Linked DNA regions of Homo sapiens. The protein of the gene in region 2 purifies or fractionates together with the protein of the main gene of each other region. This does not show direct contact. Each region holds a gene or a part of one and is shown on either strand. Other genes may lie near its edges.

Region 1 (3,500 bases), on a different chromosome or scaffold from region 2:
GCTGGGATTACAGGTGTGAACCACTACACCCAACCCAACCATATATATATATATATTTTTTTTTTTTTTTTTTTTTTTTTTTTTTTTGATTAGCTGAGCTTGGTGGCCCAGCTCCTCAGGAGGCTGAGGTGGGAAGATCCTCTGAGAACGGGAGGTCGAGGCTACAGTCCAGCCTGGGCAACAGAGCAAGACCCTGTCTCACAAACAAACAAACAAACAAACAAACAAAAACAATAGGGAATCTGGGTACAGGAATATAGGAACTCTCTGTACTATCTTTACAACTTTATTGTAAATCTAAAGCTATTCTAAAATAAAAAGTTAGTTTTTTTTTTTTAATGGCCTCCCTATGCTATGATATTTGGGGGAATAACGTCTATACCTTACAAACAGAAAGGAACTTTTGTGGCTACCAAAAACATACTGAAAAACTTTAATCATGTCCAACCAATCCTCCCAAATCCTCACCCCAAATCCACATGAATTCCAACAGGCTGTTAAAATCATACAACTCTCTAAATTTCGGAAATTTCTTACTTTGACTCATGAAGTTCTCTTAAACCAAAATCTTTAAGGTAATTAAAAAATATCGCCAGTAGCCAAACATTTACATGTTGCAACTGTAAGACAGCCAGTCCTGCCTCAGCAAATTAAAAGTGGACTGGACCAAATGTCACCAGGAGTAAAAGCATAGCAATTACAGATCTATGCATATTTAAGGAATATAAACAAATCACATATAAATATATGTATCCACACACCTTCGTATATCTATATGCCTACACATAGTCCTACACACACATTTGCACATGATACATATACAAATATATATATATTTAAATATAAAAAGTTGATCATAGCCAATGGCTTCCTCAAGCAAGAGTTTAAGAGATCAGATTCAAGTATAAATATTTTGTCTACTTTCTTAAGAATTGTCATAGCTGGGATTTGACCTTAGATTTCATACTCAAAAGACTTTTCACATCACCCAGCCCATAGCAAATTACTATAGGGATTTGGAATAATTAAAATTTGAAACTGTAAATGCGATGTTTAAAAAATTTGGTAGTCAATTAGAGTCACAAAATAGGCATGATCTGTTTGGGAGAAAGTCTGGAAGGGGACCTGGGGCATCGTTATTTCACTCCCAAGTGTTTCTGAGGAAATCCGATGACCACAGCTATAGTAAGGCCTGGCTCCAATGTCAACTCACTTACAACAGAGGTCTGTGATGTGACTCCCCCAGGTTACAAAGATCCCCTTTATAGCACAAGCCTCAGTAGGCATTAGAATCTGAGTGCAAATCTCAATTTCACTAATTTCGATTACATGAACTTAGGTAAATATCTCCATATGCAATTTCCTTATCTGTAACACAGCAAGAAAAATAGTATCTACATCATAGGGGTATTTCAAGGATTAAATGGGCTTCATATAATCAATCAATAAATGTATTAGGCTATTCTGATGTCCCTCATATATTAAACACTACACTCTAAAACTTAGCATATGTTAAAAAACTTACCCTCTAATGAGGATAAATATTTACAATTAAGATCCCTTTAGAAACCTATAAATATATTTATAGGAATGCTAACATTGCATAACTTGTTATGTTAACATAATATGCAGAATAAGGAAAGTGAATCATAAAGTGATTTATAAAGTAGATTTCCAGATGTTACCAAGACCTTACCAAATCACTAAGACAAGATTGTTCCTGGAAAAACAGATCAGGGACTTTTTAATTTAGGCTGTGAAATAATACTTATTGGCTCTTATTTTTACAACATATTCACCTATTGTGAACATTGATGTCACTGGCATAAGGTTACAACCCTAGCTTATCAGTTAAGGTATGAGTTTTCTAAATCCCCAAGGGACGCCAGCTGTCTCCACCCACCCCAGGGGTGAGGACTGAAGGATTTCTTAAGACTGTGCCTCAGACTGGGGTGAAGGTGAAGCTAGACAAGCCCAGGACCACAATGACATTTGAATCTACATTGGGATTCCCTTGGTTAGCTAAATGCAAGAAAAAAAATTCAAAATTCAGATCATAGCTCCTACTCTCAAACACAGTTTATTTATAGGTAGCTCTAATGTATTCAGAAGGAGCAAAAAAGGATACAATGCTTTAGGTATTATTCTGGAATGTTAATTTTTTTTTAAGTGACACACATCAAACCAATGGGGTAGAGACAATACAACCACCTCAGGATCCAGCTGTCTCCTCTCTGAGCATTAGCTCATCTACCCCCTCTTCCTGCCACGCTCCTGAGGCAAAGGTTTTGTAATCAAAAACCACTACCTTCAAACTATCAAGCCAAAGGCGAACAAGGTTCCTTTCCTCCTGCCTTCCCTCCCTTCCCACCATGAACCTGTCAGTCTCTTCTAGCTATAAAATGTTCATGCCCCTGTTTAAAATAATAATAATAGTAATAAACTTCCAAGAAAATGAAAGCTGGAGCAAAATGCCCTGCCAGTTAACCATCTTGGGAAAAGGTCAAAATAACCTTCCCTGGAACGCCCTTATCTTCTGGCCACAGAAAGCTGCCAAAGCCTTCCCTGCTATGTACAGAAGTAAAATCCCCTCACTGGCATCCTTCTTACACTGTCCATTTCCTCCTCTCTTCTCTGCAGGCTCTGTCTTTCCTGGCCACAGGCTGGAAAATGCACTGGTGGTAGCATGATACAACATTTATGTAAATTTCCATAGTTAAATGTTTCCTTTACCTAAAACTTACAAAATACCTTTTGAAAAATTAAAACTTTTAAGTCATAAAAATGACGTAAATCCCCACTACATAATCCTCTCATTTATATTCTTTCCCGTGTCTCAAAATTCATCAGATCTCAAGCATTTGGCAAAGCTGCAGACATACAAACCAAGCATGAAACATGAGCTATGCCTTCATCTACCTGAGCTGTCGGCAGACATTGTTACTTTGACAGAATATTTAAGAAAAGAAGTCACCAAAAACTTACCACAGCCTAATACTGGCAATGGGGGGTCTTAAAGATCAGTTCTCATAGAACCACTAACAAGCACGGGTGCAGTGTGGCAAAGGCAGCCACTGTGTTTCACAAGGTCATCAGCCACAGCTGTCAGAATAAGCACGAAGGCAACTCATACCACGGCGCAAATGAAGAATACATTCTAGACTAACAGTACGTGAGCCAGGGCCACAGAGGCTCCAGGGCCCAAGTGTGGAGAAATAATAAATCACTATTTACGCAATGAACTACATGTGGCCAAACTTGTGCTCTTTGTCCCTGCCTTCAAGAAGGGGCCAACCATCCCCAGTAACATGGACTCACCGATAGGCCACCTTGAGTCTTCCTAAGTGACAAGCATTTATTCCAAAGAACAAGGAGCAGCACCAAGACAAATGAACAAACAAGAGCTCAAGTTTGTGACTTGTTTTCCAGACTGCTCAATTCTCATTAAACATGCAAGCAGTAGTGCTGTGTTCGGCTGTAAGTGACGCTCTGCATATGCC
Region 2 (3,500 bases):
TTCCATCACCCTTTCTATTATTTTCCAAATTATTGAGAGGCTGTATTTTACTGCATCTTAAATTCTAAACCTGAAATTACCCCAAACTGCCATTATATCACTCCTCACAAACCTTTTTAAATCTCAAACACCCATGCCAGCACTGTATCCAATACCCTCCTCCCCCAATGTTTACCTCAATGTTCTCATCTTCATCTTCTTCTTCGCCACCAGAAGATTCTTCCTCTGCCTCCTTCAACCATTTTATAAATGGTTCTGCTTTGACACGAATCTCTTTGGCAAGTTCTTTGGAGACATATTTCTTAGAGGCCTAAAAAATGTGAGTACAAGTCTCTTAGTTGAGGAATTTTAACAACTTTTGATTATTTATACAATCCCCCTTACTGAGCTGAGGGGACTGGGTCCTAACAAGTCTGAATCCTCAAACAGAATCAATGTACTCAGTGAACACGTTAGTCTCAGCAGTCTGTTATGACTACAAATCTGACATGATGCGAATCACAATCTACAGCACAGGCACTGAACTTTAGCTATAGATATTAAGACATTTTTTCTTCATCTCAAAGCCGTCTCAATACTTGTGAACGGCTGGGCGCAGGAGCTCACACCTGTAACCTCAGCACTTTGGGAGGCCAGTGGATCACCTGAGGTCAGGTGTTCGAGACCAACCTGGCCAACATGGTAAAACCCCATCTACTAAAAATACAAAAATTAGCTGGGCATGATCGCAGGTGCCTGTAATCCCAGCTACTTGGGAGGCTGAGGCAGGAGAATCACTTGAAGCCGGGACGTGGAGGTTTCAGGGAGCTGAGATCATACCACTGTACTCCTGCCTGGACAACAGAATGAGACTCCGTCTCCAAAAACAATCAACCAAACAAAAAAACCCCCCAAAACCTGTGAACTTTAAGAGCCCACCTATGTATTCCCCACCTTTTCCGACCAGCTGATGATGACCTCTTCTTCTAAAAGGTCTGCATCGTACATCTCCTTCAAGATATGTGGAATCTTGGAGATAAGCTGAGCTTGATGCATTGCTACCACACACTCCAAACCATGAAGAAGGTACCGTTGGGCTTTTTTGTTGTTGTGACAAAACTGCAAATAGACACCTTGGTGTTAACAATCTTTTTTATGTGTTCTAAGTTGACAACTCTATTACCCAAATAAGAGTGTCTGCAAGTGCATGGCCCATACCATAGTTGTTCAAAAAGGTCAATGCATAAACATCCCTGTTACTTTGTAAGGGCCTAGGTATGGCACTTTCAGATACTCAGAGGCTTGTAAGGTGGGTCAATTTCCCCACTTTCAAGCATGACAGGACAAGCAAAAGTGGTTAATATGACCATCTCGAAAGCCACACAACTGTAATCTCATTTATGAATCCAGAGCACTTTGCTTACTCGTAGGAAATGGCGCCTGTATTTCTTAATCTGTTCTCTAATCTTCTCATTAAAAAGAACTTCAGTTAGAACAAGAGGGCCCATGGCTTTTACATCCAGTCTTTCTGCTTCAGCAACGATTTCTTTGTCAGATGAATCAATAACACCCTCTTCTTTCTTTTTCTGCAAAGAAAAGGAAAACAATTCAGTGCAATGGAGGCACACTTTGCCAGGCTCAAGACACCAGCCAGTCCCTGCTCTGATGAACATATTTTTCCTGCCTAATTTGGCAGTTGTGACACATAGTGCCTGGAATCACGCGCAAAAAATATTTAAATGAACAAGAGTTCTAAAAAGTCGTGCATTAGAGTAATCCTAATTACACTGCTAAAGTATCATATATCTAAAGGCACAAACAAGGCTGGGTTGAAGCTGATTTACAGACCAAGCAAATGTTTTACCTTAACAAAATCAAAGAGGATATTGACCCTCTCCTCAATTGTTCTTTCCAAATCATCACTGAGTGTCAGAACTTTTGCATGGTCACTGATTTCATCCATTCGACGCCTTTGAGCTTCCTCAGTTGTATCTTCTCCCCAGTCATCATCCTCCTCTTCTTCCTGTTTATGAAAACAGAGCTACTTGATCAAAGGCCTTAAAAACAACAACAAAAAGGTTCAGATTTTGCCAAGTTAATGGCATCAAGTCCATCTCCATCCAAAATTGGGTTCACCTTAATTCAAACAACAAACAGTACTTGGAATCCACAATATTAGTGTATTACACACTGAAGGCTAGTTTCAACATTTCCACCCACCTCAACCAAATGCCATATACTTTACACAACTTTAGTGCCCACTAGGCCATCAACCCTGCACTCACCATTGTATGTGGAGGAGGATTAATTTCATTTGGTGGTGGTGGTGGTGGTGGTGTCTCACTGCTGGATACGGAGCCATTTTCCTTGTCTTTGCCCTTTCTGTTTTTCTTTTCTTTTTCTTTCTTTCCTGTACCACTGTCACTATTCTCTACAGAAAAAAAGGGAAATAAAAATTTAACCCCATAACTTACATTACCTCATTGCCCATCATTAACGTTTAAAACCCTGCCCTTATTTTCCTATGGATCCCCTCAGAAAAACCACACAGCACACACAATGCTACCTAAGAGGCTTCACAGATCAAATTCATCATGTATTTCATACGTAAGAATGTTAGTCTAAGAATGGAGTGACACAAAATATTAGGGGTATTGTAACTGCTAAGAAAGAGTAAGATGAAGTGATGATGCCTCCACTAGGGAGAGGTGGCCCTAAGGATCCCTGTCATCCCTCATGAACAAAGTCATTAACTCAACCCAGCTTTAGCCAACAGGTGGAACACTGTTTAAGTCTATATAACGGCTTGTCTCATGGGAGAGAGAACACCGGAATAGGTTAGACTTTCTTGCTATAGCAAGCTCAAATTGTGTCAGACAGTTTTGATCATCTGCCACAGAGTGTTGCTTGCAATATTCAAGTTTAATGAAGGGGGCCCTCTTTACCAAACAATGCCAGTAAAAGAAACTTTGCTGGGTTTCCAGCAGAATTTTAGTCATTACTTCATCTACCCTCAGATAATGTCTTAATTGATATGGCACAGTTTAATTGGCAGCCTATTTTTCACCTTTAATGGTAATTAACAATACACTTTTGAAAGATGTCTTAGATTTGATAAAATATAGTACAAGGACTAAAAGGTTCCTTATATTGTTTTTTTGAGACAGAGTCGCTGTTGCCCAAGCTGGAGTGCAGTGGCACGATCTCAGCTCAGTGCAACCTCTGCCTCCAAGGTTCAAGCGACGCTCATGCCTCAGCTACCGGAGTAGCTGGGATTACAGGAGCACACCACCATGCTAAGCTAGTTTTTGTGTTTTTAGTAGACGGGTTTCACTATGTTGGCCAGGCTGGTCTTGAACTCCTGGCCTCAAGTGATGTGCCCGCCCTGGCCTCCCAAAATGCGGGGAATACAAGCATGAGCCACCGTGCCCAGTCTCCCTTACATTCCTATTACAAAAAAACCTTCTATTTTGTTCCCAACAGTTAGTAACTTATCTTAGGATCTTAGGAGTTCATCATGG
Region 3 (3,500 bases), on a different chromosome or scaffold from region 2:
TTTTTCTTTTTAAACTCTTATAGGGATGGATCGTGACTATGGCCATGGATCCTATGGGGGTCAGAGATCCATGGATTCCTACCTAAACCAGTCATATGGCATGGACAATCACAGTGGTGGTGGTGGGGGTAGCAGGTAAATTGCTTAATCATTTGGCCAAATAATTAGACAACTATAAGATTTTGGATATATTATTTTAAGTACTCTTTAGGCATGTTATGATACTTGAACTTCACTGTTTGCTATTGAATCATCACCTTAAATATTTAAAGGTGTTAATTAATGGGTATAAAATTTAAATCAGTATTACTGGCAGACGTTATTTTAGGAAAACACCAGATAACTATATCATGTCAATATAATAGAGTAAGATACACTTTTTAGCAGTGAACTTTTAAAAAATTCTTTTACTTTTAACTTCTTGTCAATCAAAGTATCCTGAAAAATGATATAAAAATGTTATTGAAAATATTATTTATGAAGCTTTTTCTTAATAATTAAAAAAAATCTTTTCTAATGTGGGGTGCTATGTAAATTAGCAAAGCAGTCTAACTAGAATGGATTTTACTGAACCAGTCTAACATTTACTTTCCAAGAAACATTCAGGACATATTCCTTTAATTCTAATTTTAAAGGAAGAGCATATTGCAATAATAAAAATATTTTTAAAATTATGTTCAGGTTATTTATTGACAGGTACTACTTACACCAAAGCACTTGTGCTCTAGGCTAGAAGCATTGTATTAAAGCCATGAATACTATACCTTTGACTAGTCGAGATTGTATTTATATTTTCCTGTTACTACTGTATAAAGCTTAAACCTACTTAAACAACTACAAGCTTTAAGGTTGACCATATTTCAGGAGAAGGGGTGTCTACTTTTTGAGGCACAAAGGTTCCTGCTGAATATAAGTAAAACTAGTTAGTAGACATGTGAAACAGTCATCCTTCTGCATAAATTGAAGGATCCGGATTCCTTAATGATGGACTGAATGATGCTTACTTTCCTTCTTTCTGCTTCCAGTGTACCACTATGGTTTATAGTAAAGAAAAATTAAGAAAGTGAACAGTTGCAACTATTTTGCTTATGTGATAGATGTTTTGAAAAATGTAGTTGGAAATAGGAATAATTTTTATATGGTTACTAGGATTCAGAAGTAAATCTATTTAGTGATCTGTAAATAATTGAAGTAATGTAACACTTAATGTTTTAATATGTCAGTTATTGCCCTTTTATATTGTGAATGTAATGTGCATAAGCTATATCCGTAGATGTTATTGTTTTATCTCATGTGTAATTGTGGGCCTTTATAAAATTGTGTTGTAAGATATCAAGCAACTTTTGTAATCCATGCTTTGGGTTTGTGAGAAGGAAGATGATTTATTTCTTCTGTTAACTCTCTTAAAACCTCGAGGAGACTGTGTGCTCCCTTTTTTAGGGTAGTTTTATGTGATAATTTCCTGAAGGAAATAATTTTGCAAATAATTGAATATATTATAAGATGTATTCTTTCTCATCTGCCTTGAAAATTCATATGCAGAGGGTATATGTTGGTGATCTTTTATGTTTTATCTGTTTATCCTTCTAGATTTGTTAGATTTTCTAGTCTACAAGTAAAAAGTGATTGAGGATTGATTAATTGACCTTGGCTGAAGTTTGGCAGATTGTTAAATTTTTATAACCAGAGATAATTCCCCAAATTTTGACTCCTACAGACACAATGAAGCAGTTTGTGATATAGATTATTGGGAGTGCAAAAGGATCTCTCTGTGTCACAAATAACCTACATCTAAGTAGACTTCAATTTGTGTCCCTATTGAAAGCCAAAATATTGTAAATGTTTTGTAATTTTTAATATTAGGGATAGATTCAAAAAAGTTTGAATAGTTTGTGAACTTTAGCAAATGACCTTTTCCAAGACTAGGGCTGGGCTTAAATAATGACAGACAAATCTTTTCTTCTTCATAAAATAGAAAAGCTGCTAAGAAGCAGATTTTAAAGCTAAGTTTTACTAAACTCAATTCATATTTATAATCTGACTCAGATAGCTTTCTATCTGGTCTCACGTTGAACTGCCCAGCCCTAATCAAATGTGAACAAAAGTAGAACTGTGCAAACCAGTATGGTATAAATGAATTTTAGTTGATAAATGTCATCTGATAATTTGTCTTTTGAATTGTCTAACATTAGTAAGCTTACTTTTGTTTTTTCCCTCACTGTGCAACTTTTCCAGGTTTGGACCTTATGAGTCTTACGACTCCAGGTCTTCTCTGGGTGGGCGAGATCTGTACAGATCTGGCTATGGTTTTAATGAACCCGAACAAAGCCGCTTCGGAGGTAGTTATGGTGGTCGATTTGAGAGCTCCTACCGGAATAGCCTTGACTCTTTCGGAGGTAGAAACCAGGGCGGGTCTAGCTGGGAAGCACCTTACTCCCGTTCAAAATTGAGGCCTGGGTTTATGGAGGACAGAGGAAGAGAGAATTACTCTTCCTACAGCAGTTTTTCTTCACCCCATATGAAGCCTGCACCTGTAGGCTCTCGGGGGAGAGGAACGCCTGCTTATCCTGAAAGTACGTTTGGAAGCAGAAACTATGATGCTTTTGGAGGACCATCAACAGGCAGAGGCCGAGGCCGAGGAGTAAGTACAACAGAATCTTTTCAGATTCTTTTCACTAGTCACTCTTTTAAACCCTTTCAAGACCATCGTTTTCAACTAGAATAAACACTGTTCATCCCGGTGTATTTTGAAGCAAAAGCTGAGTCATAAACATAATTTTTAGGTTGACTGTAAAAGTTTTTCTAGCACCTCAGAAAATAAGTGGCAGTTTGAGATGATCATAAAGTTGTGCCAAATCTCCCTTTATTAAAAAGGTGAGGCTACTGGTTTGGTCTAAAAGGGGTTAAAAGGAGTTGCATTTTCCTTGTAAACACTAGCAGTTTTGCTGGTGGAATAGTTTGTGGATTATTGTGAAAGGTCACTGAACCCTTTTTGAGTTTTTGAGTAGGTTAAAGGTGCAATGTATGATAAAATGTTTATACTTTGTGGCTAAACTCTAGCAAGTAGAATTTCTTCAAAGCTCCATGTTTCACATTAAACACAGGAGACTAAAAGTTGATGATAGATCAGGATAGCTTAGCCATGTTTATGTGGTGAAGAAGTTGATGTGTATAATAGATTGTACAATGATTTGTGGTCAGTGTAATTTTGCTAACTCACGCTTACAATATGTCCAGTTGCTGGTTGTTTTATTTTCCCTCGTGTTACTAGTTTTACTCTTGAGAAATAATTTCCACCTGTACAGATATGTTTATGGTTTCTTCTTAGGAAGTAATATTTTGTAAATTATTGCTTAAATGAGTAAATATACTAGTCCACAGTTGTTTAAGTTTAGGGTACATAGTGTAAACATTATGCTTTATGTTCTTAGGTCACTTGATTGACATGAAAATTTACCTAGTAAGTGTATGCAGATTGTGGGGTTATTATATAGTTTGAT
Region 4 (4,015 bases), on a different chromosome or scaffold from region 2:
GCTGCACATTCCCCAAGGGAACTTTCCTGTCTGCTGTTTTAACTTCATCAGAGGTTCGCCTTATTTCCCCACACTCATTTTTGCGATGGCCTGTGGGGCTCCTAGTGACCTGGGCTTCTCCCTGGGGCAGGTGAACTTTGGCCCCAGACCTTGCACTTTCAGTTTCTTTGCCCAGAAAGACTACATGCCCTGCCCCCACCTTACTTTTTTAGGTCTTTGTTCCAACTTAGTCCTCTTGTGAGACCCCCTGCCCTGCAGCTCTGCTTAAAACTACAGCTGGCTGGGCGCGGTGGCTCACGCCTATAATCCCAGCACTTTGGGAGGTCAAGGCAGGTGGATCACTTGAGGTTAGGAGTTTGAGACCAGCCTGGCCAACATGGTGAAACTCCATCTCTACTAAAAATGCAAACATTAGCCCTACTAGGGAGGCTGGGGCAGAAGAATTGCTTGAACCCAGGAGGCAGAGGTTGCTGTGAGCCGAGATCATATCACTGCACTCTAGCCTGGGCAACAGAGTGAGAGTCCGTCTCAAAAAAAAAAAAAACAACAACAAAAAAAACAAACCCACAAAACTGCAGCCACCTATGTCCCTACCTCCCCAGCCTCCAGGTCCCCTTCCCGCCTTCCTTTCTGGGCAGCATCATCATCTGACATACCAGACTTGTTCCCTTACTGTCTACCTTAATAGAGTAACAGAAGTATGGCTCCATGGGCATGGGGGCTCTGTTTTTCTCACTGCCCTGTCACCAATGTTGAAGCCCATGGTTGCCACACAACAGGGGCCTGATTTTTATAAGATGACAAAATAAATGCCACAGAAAGTACAAATTCCCTGAAAGATCCCTCACTAAGTAAAATTTATCTGTATATCTTTTTACTAATATCCAAAACCTTCGAAAGCCTTTAGAAAAATGTGTAGTAGTAGTCCTGCCTGATATTAATTTATCTAGTTTTTAAATAAACAGTGCTTACACCAATCCACATGAAAACCCAGATACAATGACTAACTGTGGCTGTTAAGCCACTGAGTGTGGACAGAATGTGCATTAGTTGAAATGAAGCATCTTTTCTGTTCAAAATCACTCAACAGGCTGTGCCCTGTGGCTCACGCCTGTAATCCCGGCACTTTGGGAGGCCAAGGCGGGCAGATCACCTGAGGTCAGGAGTTCAAGGTCAGCCTGGCCAACACGGCGAAACCCCATCTCTACTAAAAATACAATAAAATTAGCTGGACGTGGTGGCACGTGCCTGTAATCCCAGCTACTTGGGAGGCTGAGACAGGAGAATCGTTTGAACCCGGGCAGTGGATGTTGCAGTGAGCCAAGACTGCACCACTGCACTCCAGCCTGGGTGACAGAGTGAGACTCCATCTCAATTAAAAAAAAAAAAAAAAATCACTCAATAGGTACAAGGCTTTGACAAGTTTGACTCGCCATCCTTTACCACTCTGGTACTAGTATTAATAGTCCTAGGAATCCCCCAGCCCGGCTTGACTTTGCATGTGCCCTTATATCTGTTTTTCTTTCCTATAAATAAGCATCCAAAGTACCTTAGGCTAGCTAGTGTTTGTTGAGCGACTGTAGCTCTTCAATCTGCTGCTGGGCTGAACAAATCTATTTTGTTCAGATTAATACTTTACACATTCCTTTGCTTCATTATTTGCTGCTTCCTTAAAATGCTATCAGTATTGGATGAGCAGGCTCAACTTTGTTAGCTTCATAACCAAAAAATAAAAAATCTTGGGAATCTCGCTCCACTGATTCCCTAGGGGATATTTTCCCAGATCCCTTCACTTTGTTCCAACCAAGGTAGAATGCCAAATGTGTGTGCTTTAGGCCTGGACCCCCTCATATTCTAAGCATGGGTAGCGAATGAGCTCACAAAAAGGAAAAAGAGGGGTCTGGAAAGAAGACACACAAACCAGAAAATGCATACCCCTGCCTCCTGCTCTTCTCGGACTTAACTAGTATGGATACCACGTGCTTCGGGTCTCCGCGCTTCTCAGCGGTGGCCATCCCGTTTCCTGCAGCTGGGCCAGCAGTCTGGGAGAACCCTTGATTCCCTTTCACCTGCCCCAGTGCACCAGCTTCCTACCAACGCATCCGTTTCTGGGCGCACACCACATCTCTCTCCTAGGTTGTTACAAGATCCCCAACTGGCTTCCCGGCTTCCTCTCGTCCCATGCCTACCCGCGCCCCTACTTTCTAGGAAGCAGCCAGAAGGACTCCTTCAAAACACTTAAATTGCATCGCCCCGTGATCAACTTCCGAGGCCCCATAAGGCTCCGAATGAACCCCAAAGTTCTTCCCGGGCTCAGGGGCTCTGCCGGTTCACCTCCGGCAAGTCCCCTGCCCTTCGCATCTGCTGTGCCCTCTTCCTGGCAGGCTCTGCTTCCCCAGAACCTGCAAACCTCACCCCTGGAAGTCACTCGGGTTTCGGCCCCAAAGTCACCTCTCCGTGGGCCCTTGCGGGGCCACAGCTCGCACCCGCTCCTCCTTGAAGCTCGCATCCCTGACTTAGGCCGACCTCGCGGACATCCCCGCGCGGGACGCCCCACGCGAGAGCGGCCACAGGCCGGGAGCCCCCTTCGTCCTCCCGCGCGGGACAATCGGCGACAGGCGCCGGCCGCTCCCCAGCCCTGCCCTAAAGGCGCGCACCTCTCCGGCGAGTTGTGTTTCCCGCAGCCGCTGGGCTGACTCGCCGCGGGTGCCGGCGCATCCCTCCCCGGCGCCACGGCCGCCTCCATCCCCGCCCCACTGCTGCCGGGCATCCAGCCTCCTTCCCGCGGAGCGCTACGGGCCCAGAGCGCCGGGGAGGAGGCGGGGCCGCGACGCCCGGGCGCGTCCGGATTGGCTGAGCGAAGCACCCCAGCCAATCCACCCGCTTCAGAGGGCCGCCGAGCCCCCAGCGGGGAGGCGAGGCTGCGCTGGGTCAGGTGACGGGTGGGGGCGGGGCTTAGCGCGTCACAGAGCTTCCCGGGAACCGGGCGCTAGAAGCCGCGTCTCCTGGGCCGGCGGATCCCCGCACTTTCACTTCCGGGGGAGCCCCGTGACCTTTGCTGTCTGCGGCAGGGCCGCCATCGGGCCGCGGCCGGTTAGTCGGCGTAAGAGCAGGCGGGGCCCGAGCTGGACCTGAGGAGCAGAGGCGGCTGGGCAGTCCTGCGGGTGCCTCCCTCTAGCCGCATGAGCGCGGGACCGTGCACTCCGGGAGAGCCGGGGCCGCGCGGCCTTGTTCCCCGCGAACCCTCGAGGGGAAGTGCCGGGGCCGCGGCAGCAGGGCCAGGGCCCCGGGGGTCTCCCGCAGGCCACCCTGGACAGTGATGAGCAGGTCCGCTGGACCTGCGCGTCCGTTAGTCGGAGCGGCTCCATAGGGGACCTGGATGGCGTGAAGTTAAGAGTCACGCATCGAGGATGGACTTGAGGGGATCTGGAGTAGAGGATGGGAGGGCATTGAGAAAATAGGGCCAGAGATGAGGGACTCTAAGTGGGCGTGGAAACGCAGGAAAGATTAATTCAAGATCTGTTTAGGCCGTTAAATAGGAATTGGGGCATGAGGGACAGGAAGGAAGCAAGGATTAGACAAGTGACTGGGAAGATGTTAGTGCCTTTATCTGGGTAAGAGGGAAGACGGGAGGGGGAAAGATGATGGGTTTAGCTTTGGACATGTTGAGTTGTCTGTGAGACAGTCACAAGTGTAAACATCCACCAATGGTTGGTGTCCCGCCAACCATTAAGAAAAGTCAGTTGAGAAAGTGGTAGAAATGAGCAAAAATCCTCACGAAGCCATCCTACCGTCACTTTTTTTGTTGTTTTTTGTTTTTTTGGCATAATAGTGTCTACCTTTAATTGAGCCTTGAACTATGCCAGGCAGTGTTCTAGGTATTTTTCGTGTGTTCACTAATTTAATCTTGATGATTAACCCAGTCTGGTAGGTATTTATGTATGAGGAATCCAAGATACAGAAAGGCATCTTGCCCAAGTTCACACGAGTAGTGGCTGGAGCCAAAATTCGGTTT

Evidence for each region. The genes of interacting proteins can lie anywhere in the genome.
Region 1: the proteins of EIF5 (region 2) and ISOC1 fractionate together in Homo sapiens (co-fractionation; one large-scale study listed by BioGRID). This does not show direct contact.
Region 3: the proteins of EIF5 (region 2) and ZNF326 fractionate together in Homo sapiens (co-fractionation; one large-scale study listed by BioGRID). This does not show direct contact.
Region 4: the proteins of EIF5 (region 2) and SCLY fractionate together in Homo sapiens (co-fractionation; one large-scale study listed by BioGRID). This does not show direct contact.

The regions. Positions count from the first base shown.
Region 1 is NC_000005.10:129,097,749-129,101,248, reverse strand, and holds part of ISOC1 (isochorismatase domain-containing protein 1), read right to left. Parts: exon of another isoform or gene 3,483-3,500; intron 1-3,482.
Region 2 is NC_000014.9:103,337,237-103,340,736, reverse strand, and holds part of EIF5 (eukaryotic translation initiation factor 5), read right to left. Parts: intron 2,889-3,500; exon of another isoform or gene 2,763-2,888; intron 2,411-2,762; coding exon 2,265-2,410; intron 2,003-2,264; coding exon 1,844-2,002; intron 1,566-1,843; coding exon 1,404-1,565; intron 1,099-1,403; coding exon 934-1,098; intron 311-933; coding exon 176-310; intron 1-175.
Region 3 is NC_000001.11:90,005,110-90,008,609, forward strand, and holds part of ZNF326 (DBIRD complex subunit ZNF326), read left to right. Parts: intron 1-23; coding exon 24-135; coding exon of another isoform or gene 136-139; exon of another isoform or gene 140-1,336; intron 1,337-2,235; coding exon 2,236-2,641; intron 2,642-3,500. UniProt on the Homo sapiens protein: Core component of the DBIRD complex, a multiprotein complex that acts at the interface between core mRNP particles and RNA polymerase II (RNAPII) and integrates transcript elongation with the regulation of alternative splicing: the DBIRD complex affects local transcript elongation rates and alternative splicing of a large set of exons embedded in (A + T)-rich DNA regions.
Region 4 is NC_000002.12:238,059,786-238,063,800, reverse strand, and holds the start of SCLY (selenocysteine lyase), read right to left. Parts: upstream 2,801-4,015; 5' UTR 2,747-2,800; coding exon 2,658-2,746; intron 1-2,657. UniProt on the Homo sapiens protein: Catalyzes the decomposition of L-selenocysteine to L-alanine and elemental selenium.